2 linked regions of the Homo sapiens genome follow. The protein of the gene in region 1 purifies or fractionates together with the protein of each later gene. This does not show direct contact. Each region holds a gene or a part of one and is shown in the gene's direction. Other genes may lie near its edges.

The links.
Region 2: the proteins of SLC25A12 (region 1) and HK1 fractionate together in Homo sapiens (co-fractionation; one large-scale study listed by BioGRID). This does not show direct contact.

What each region holds. Positions count from the first base shown.
Region 1 is NC_000002.12:171,782,880-171,786,370, reverse strand, and holds the end of SLC25A12 (electrogenic aspartate/glutamate antiporter SLC25A12, mitochondrial), read left to right. Parts: intron 1-895; coding exon 896-1,097; 3' UTR 1,098-2,966; downstream 2,967-3,491. UniProt on the Homo sapiens protein: Mitochondrial electrogenic aspartate/glutamate antiporter that favors efflux of aspartate and entry of glutamate and proton within the mitochondria as part of the malate-aspartate shuttle.
Region 2 is NC_000010.11:69,395,347-69,398,997, forward strand, and holds part of HK1 (hexokinase-1), read left to right. Parts: intron 1-3,248; coding exon 3,249-3,482; intron 3,483-3,651. UniProt on the Homo sapiens protein: Catalyzes the phosphorylation of various hexoses, such as D-glucose, D-glucosamine, D-fructose, D-mannose and 2-deoxy-D-glucose, to hexose 6-phosphate (D-glucose 6-phosphate, D-glucosamine 6-phosphate, D-fructose 6-phosphate, D-mannose 6-phosphate and 2-deoxy-D-glucose 6-phosphate, respectively).

The sequences.
Region 1 (3,491 bases):
GCTCTGTCGCCCAGGCTGGAGTGCAGTGGTACGATCTCGGCTCACTGCAACCTCCACCTCCCAGGTTCAAGTGATTCTCCTGCCTCAGCCTCCTGAGAAGCTGGGACTAAGGGCGCCCACCACCGCGCCTGGCTAATTTTTTTTTTTTTTAATATTTTTAGTAGAGACGGGGTCTCACCGTGTTAGCCAGGATAGCCTTGATCTCCTGACCTCATGATCCGCCTGCCTCGGCCTCCCAAAGTTCTGGGATTACAGGCGTGAGCCACCATGCCCGGCCTATCTCTCTTTAAATAATTTAATTGATAATCTTTATGAGTCTACTACATAAAAAGTTAACTTCTAAAGTTATGTCAAAAGAAAAATATATACTTTAAAAATTACTTTCATATGTGCTAAGTGCAGAAAATTTGGAAAACCATAAAGCATAAAAGAAAAAAACCAGCCTGGGTGTGGTGGCTCACACCTCCCAGTGCTCTGGGAGGCCAAGGCAGAAGGATTCCTTAGACCAGAAGTTCGAAACCAGCTTTGGCAACATAGCAAGACCCCATCTTTACAAGAAGAAAAAAGAAAAAAATCATCCATAATCTTACTACCCAGAGAGTCTTCATATTTGAGTGTCTTTTCTTCTGACTTTTTTCCTATGGATTTGTTTATATATGTATGCAAGCATTGGAAATAAGGCCATTTCTCTTGTAAATCAAATATGTAGATAAGTTGCTGTCAAAGCAGCTATAAATCATGACTGTGGTTTCTAGTCATGCAGCACAGATGCCATGGAAATGGTTGAGAGAAACATTCTTCTTTGTGGCACATGGGTCAGACCGAAAATGTCCAGCTGTAAGCTGCGCTCATCCACCTTGAGCATGCTAACCATTGGCTTTTTTTCTGTCAACAGCAAACCCGCTGGTTCAGAACCAACACCTAAGTCACGCATTGCAGACCTTCCTCCTGCCAACCCTGATCACATCGGTGGATACAGACTCGCCACAGCCACGTTTGCAGGCATCGAAAACAAATTTGGCCTTTATCTCCCGAAATTTAAGTCTCCTAGTGTTGCTGTGGTTCAGCCAAAGGCAGCAGTGGCAGCCACTCAGTGATGAGACAACTGTTGAGTGTGGCAAAATGGCGCCTTGAAGAAAGAGGCCTAGGAGAGCAGCCCTGTAATGTATCCAGTCAGCTGCATGGTACTGACTGAGCTGAGGAGTCAAACTCTTCTTTCTGTATGACATATACATATACTTGTTTATAAAATAATCATTTGCCCAGGGAAAAAACCACAACGCTGTTTCAAGCTTTAGTCTTATGTGTTGAAATGTTTTTGTAAGCCTTGGCATGAATTAGTGTTCTAGACTCTGCTTTGCACAGCTTGCACTTACAGTGATTGTACATATTGTACATCTTTGTACAGAGACATCTTGGCACCTCATCCCAACAAATCACATTTGTAGAAATGTAATGCGGTTCTGAGTGGCTTGAAATGTACAGAATGTTTTGAAAGTGTTTTATTAAGAATCACACAAAAATAAATGTATTAAAATTAAATTCATTCTCTTATTGGTGACTTATGGAAATAAAGCATCAATATTGGATGTATTTAATTCCTAGTTTGTTTTCCATTCTGGAATAAAAAGGTATTTGCTGATAAAAGGCATAACGAGACATAGTGCTGCTACCACTGAATAAGTGATACTTTGGAAAGATGCATGCCAGTGGATGCCAGAGGACCAGGCTAATGACTTGTGTGTGCTGATGTGTTTCCATTTGTATTTAATGTGTGTAGACCCTCCTCTGTTCATCAATCAAAAAGCATTTCCTAGGCAGCTCCTCGCCTGTCAGTGTGCATATGGAAACAGGGACATCTCCATCATTACTGGCTTAGTTTTGCTTTCCTTTGACACAGTAAGGCAAAGGCCAAGCTTTCAAAAGAGTAAAGGATACTTTCACAATTTCCCTTCATATGGATATGATTCCAGTCAAAAATAAAATGCACACCAAAATGTATACATGTAGTTGGATTTTTCTTTGTAAATATACTGATAATACTTTTTGTTCTGATTGACTACTGATTGCAAATAACTCATGATCGGGTTCGCCCTTTCTTCCACCTTTATAGAAAACAGAAAAATTAGTTTTAGAAAGGGCTAGCGCAGAGTGAAGGGAGGGAAGAAGAAAGAGAAGAAAAGCTCTATATGGTGATTTAGTGGGGTCTAGGTTCTTACTTTGGAATCCAAATGCAAACTGTTCTAAAAGTCACTCATCAAGGGCGTGATTACTAATTTGGATCTAAACATAGATCTTGACAGCCACATCTACACTTTGATATGGATGTGATTTGATGTGCAGTATCAGAATTTATTTACCTTACCAAAGTGCTCTGGGAAGACATTATTGCTACTGCCAGTAAGCTGGGATATGAGAATGTATGCAAATATTTTCAAGAGGCGAGCCTGGAGACAGACCAAGTTACTTAGTATCCTGCACAGTGCTCCTCGATTGATGGCTGACAGCCCTGTGACTGCAACTGTAGGCTCCCTGGAGGCCCTCCAGGAACAAAAGAATTAGCTTTGAAAGCAAGTTATTTTCAAATGTATTAGATTGGTCTCATGGGAGTGGAACAAATAATAATACAGTTGTTTTGCTACTACCACTTGTTAGAAATATATAAGTAGTCCATGGATATGTGATTACAAAAGAATCCTATGTATGTATCTAGAGTGAGATGGGAAAGTGTCCCGCTTACCCTCCTTCTACCTCCACCACTTCCTGGCCCAGAGGTAATCACTGCTAACAGGTTACAGCATGAATATGTAGTCTGTTTTTCATAACTCTATAGAAATATATGTACATATTTATATTTTAGAAACAGGATTATGTTATGTGTGTGTTATTCTGTGTCTTGCTTTTGTTCACTTAATGTGTTTTGGATATCTTTCCATGTCAGTTTATAAAGTTTTATTTTTAATGGCTGCATAGTATTTCATTGTATGGGTTATAATACTTTTCATAAATCTTCCCTTATTGATATTTATTCATTTTTTTCACTACTGCAAACAATGCTGTAGTGAATGGCAGACATCTTTGTACACATATCTTTAGTGCATGTGAATTTCATTAGGATAGATATTTGGAATTGCAATTGAAAACTTTTAAGACAAGCTTTATGTTTTTATACATATTGCCACATTGTTCTTCAAAAAGAGTTATTAATTTACTTTCCTTTGACAGCATATGAGAATGCCTATTTCTTTGCAACCTCAGCAAAGAGGGATATTATCAGTCTTTTACATTTTCAGCAAATCATGATAGCTGATCATGGTTATTTTATTTTTCTAATTACTAGTGAGATTGAATGTCTTTTCATATTTACTGGTCATTTGTATATTTTCTTATTGTGGAATATGGACAAAGTACATGAAACATATGTATGCATGTCCACAACAGATATGTACACACATACATATATATTTTTTAACATATCATAATGTGCATAC
Region 2 (3,651 bases), on another chromosome or scaffold:
GCAGGCGGATCATGAGGTCAGGAGATTTGAGACCATCCTGGCTAACATGGTGAAACCCGATCTCTACTAAAAATACAAAAAATTAGCTGGGTGTGGTGGCATATGCCTGTAATCCCAGCTACTTGGGAGGCTGAGGCAGGAGACTCACTTGAACCCAGGAGGTGGAGGTTGCAGTGAGCTGAGATCGCGCCACTGCACTCCAGCCTGGCCTGGCAACAGAGCGAGACTGCATCTCAATAAATAAGTAAATTACTTACTTTCCTTTTATCCATCCTTTATGTTGGGGCATTATATTGATTTATTTGAAATTATGTGTGTAAGAGGGCCATATGGATTCCATTTCAGATGGTAAAGATGCACTACACATACTTGTATTGGGGGTGCATAGGGCCCACCTGGATTTATCTGAAAGGCAGCCTGGGGTTCAGTGCCAGGCCACCCAGGAGCTGATGCCCCTCAGCAAGTTGTTCCACCTTCTTTCTACTTTTCTCCTGTCCAGGGTACATTTCTTCCTGGCCTTTGCTGTCTTCTAAGGCACGCTGTGTGAGAAGGAGGAAAAAAGGGTCAGAAAAAACAAAAGCAATTGTGCAAATACTGTGTTCTTCTTAGAATGGTCATAATAACCTAACGTAGGCTCTGTGTAGGCTGGGCACGGTGGCTCATGCCTGTAATCTCAACACTTTAGGAGGCCAAAGCAGGTGAATCACTTGAGTTCAGGTGTTCGAGACCAGCCTGGTTAACATGGCAAGACCCCATTTCTACAAAAAGTGCAAAAACTAGCCGGGCGTGGTGGCACATTCCTGTGGTCCCAGCTATTTGGGAGGCTGAGGTGGGAGGATGGCTTGAGCCCGGTGGCGGAGGTTGCAATGAGCTGAGGTTGCACCACTGCACTCCATCCTGGGCGACAGAGACAGACTCTGTCTCAAAAAAAAAAAAAAAAGAGAAAGAAAAGAAAAAAAATATTAAACCTTAAACAAAAAAAAACCTAACAAGCCTATACACTGCTCTTACCCAGGCAAAATGGTTTTTAAGTATACAGTTCGGTGACATTAAGTACATTCACATAGTCGCACAGCTATCACCACCATCCATTTCCGGAACTCTTTTCATCTTCTCAGCTGAAACTCTGTACGCAGCAAACACTAACTCCACATTCCTCCCTCCCCCCACCCCAGCAACCACCATTCTACTCTCTGTCTCTATGGATTTGACAACTCTGGATACTTCATATAAATAGAATCATACAGCATTTGTCCTTTGTGACTGGCTTAATTCACTTAGCATAATGTCTTAAGGTTCATCCGTATTGTGGCATGTGTTAGAATTTCCTTATTTTTTTATTTTTATTTTTTGAGACGGAGTTTCACTCTTGTTGGCCAGGCTGGGGTGCAATGGTGCAAACTTGGCTCGCCATAACCTCTGCCTCCTGGGTTCAAGCGATTCTCCTGCCTCAGCCTCCTGAGTAGCTGGGATTACAGGCGTGCGTCACCATGCACGCCCGGCTAATTTTGTATTTTTAGTAGAGATGGGGTTTCCCCATGTTGATCAGGGTGGTCTCAAACTCCCGACCTCAGGTAATCTGCCCACCTTGGCCTCCCAGAGTGCTGGGATTACAGGCATGAGCCACCACGCCCGGCCATAATTTCCTTATTTTTAAGGCTGAGTGATATTCCATTGCATGCACACACTGCATTTTGTTTATTCATTCATCCATCCATGGACACTTGGCTTGCTTCCACCTTTTGGATATTGTGACAAATGCTGCTGTGAACACGGGTGACCAGTATCTCCTTTCAGTTTGTGTGTGTGTGTGTACGCACCCCAAGTGGACTTGCGGGATCATATGGTAATTCCCTGTTCAGTTGTTTGTGGAACCACCATGTTGTTTTCCACAGTGGCTGTAACATTTTACATTCCCACCAGCAGCCCGTGAAAGTTCTAGTTTCTCCACATCCTCGCCAACACTTGTTATTTTCTGAGTTGAGAATAGCCATCCTAATGGGTATGAAGTGGTATGGAAAGTCTTTTCAAGCATAATAGCAAAGAAAGAAATCATAAAGAAAAATGGCCAAATATAGCTACATAGTGTCTGTAAGTAAAAAAAAAAAGTAATCAAACTTAAAAGGCAACGGTAAACTGAGGAAGACATTTGTACTGTGTATGACAAGACGCCTAGCAGGGCATGGTGGGCTTTGGCAGGTCTGGTCTACACCTGCTCTTCTCCACCGGCTGTGTGCTTTGCAATACTCAATTTCTCCCAGCCTCAGTTGCCTTATCTTTAAAATGGGAATAATCATACATTCATTGGTTGTTTGAGGAGTAAGTAAGGTAATGTATGTAAAATATATGTTACATGGTAAGTCCTCCAAGAAGCCTGGCTGGTCTTCATTGTACCATCCCAGTTATCGTCTCTTTCAATTTAATATAAATAAGACAAATATATCAGGAGAAAAGTCTTGAGACGTAAGAAGTAGTTTATATGGCCAAAAAACAAATGGAAAAAAAAGAGATCATCCTCACTAATAGAGAATAATATAAATTGAACTACAGTCTTGTGATGCCTTCTTATAAAACTGTCAAAAGTTGTAAAAAAATGCTCTTTTCCAGTGAGGATAAGTGTGGCCAAATACTCTGCTGAAGAGTAAATGGATACAATTTTCTGTAAGGCATCTGGCAATGTGTAGCAAAAGCTCGTTGACCCAGAAATTTATCCTAAGGAAAAACATCAGAATTGCACACAAAGATTTATAAACAAACCTTATCAAAATGTTTCTTTATAATAGCAGAAAATTGCAATTAACTTGAATTTCTCCAAGCTGGCTAAAGAAATCATGGTGCATCCCTAGAGGGAATACTGCAGCAGCTGTTTCCAATCCTGTTCTCAGATAAGGCTGTGGGAAATTGCTCAATGCATGAAACAGGAAAGAGAAAGAAAATCACATATCAAGGATAATCCCATTTTGCATATCATGAGAAGCATACCAGCTAGGAAAAATAAACTGGAAGGAAATATATTAAAATGTTAATAGCATTTTCCTAGATGTTGAGATAGTGAATGGTTTAGATTTTCCAATTTTTATTTTGCTAGATTTGCCAAATTCTCCACAGTTTAACATGTAACACTTGCCCTTGACTCTGTCTGTGGATGAGTACAGTGATTGGGGGCGGGGGGCGTCCTTTGGACGTGGTCTCCAGGCTGCTCTTGTGGGTCCTGCTTCATCCAGCCCTCTGGCTCTTGTCCCCCACAGTGACCGATTAGCACTGCTCCAGGTCCGGGCTATCCTCCAGCAGCTAGGTCTGAATAGCACCTGCGATGACAGTATCCTCGTCAAGACAGTGTGCGGGGTGGTGTCCAGGAGGGCCGCACAGCTGTGTGGCGCAGGCATGGCTGCGGTTGTGGATAAGATCCGCGAGAACAGAGGACTGGACCGTCTGAATGTGACTGTGGGAGTGGACGGGACACTCTACAAGCTTCATCCACAGTGAGTGGGCCTTCCAGTTGGGATGCGCAGAGCTTGCTGGGATCCCTTTGGGTTAGGGGGTATCAGGGTGTGGTTTACGCTGGGGAAATGCCCTGCGGGAGCCCAGCCAGGCTGAAGGCTGTGCGTTCAGGAGCTGGGGATTGTCTAGGACAAGGTAATGAACAGTTTG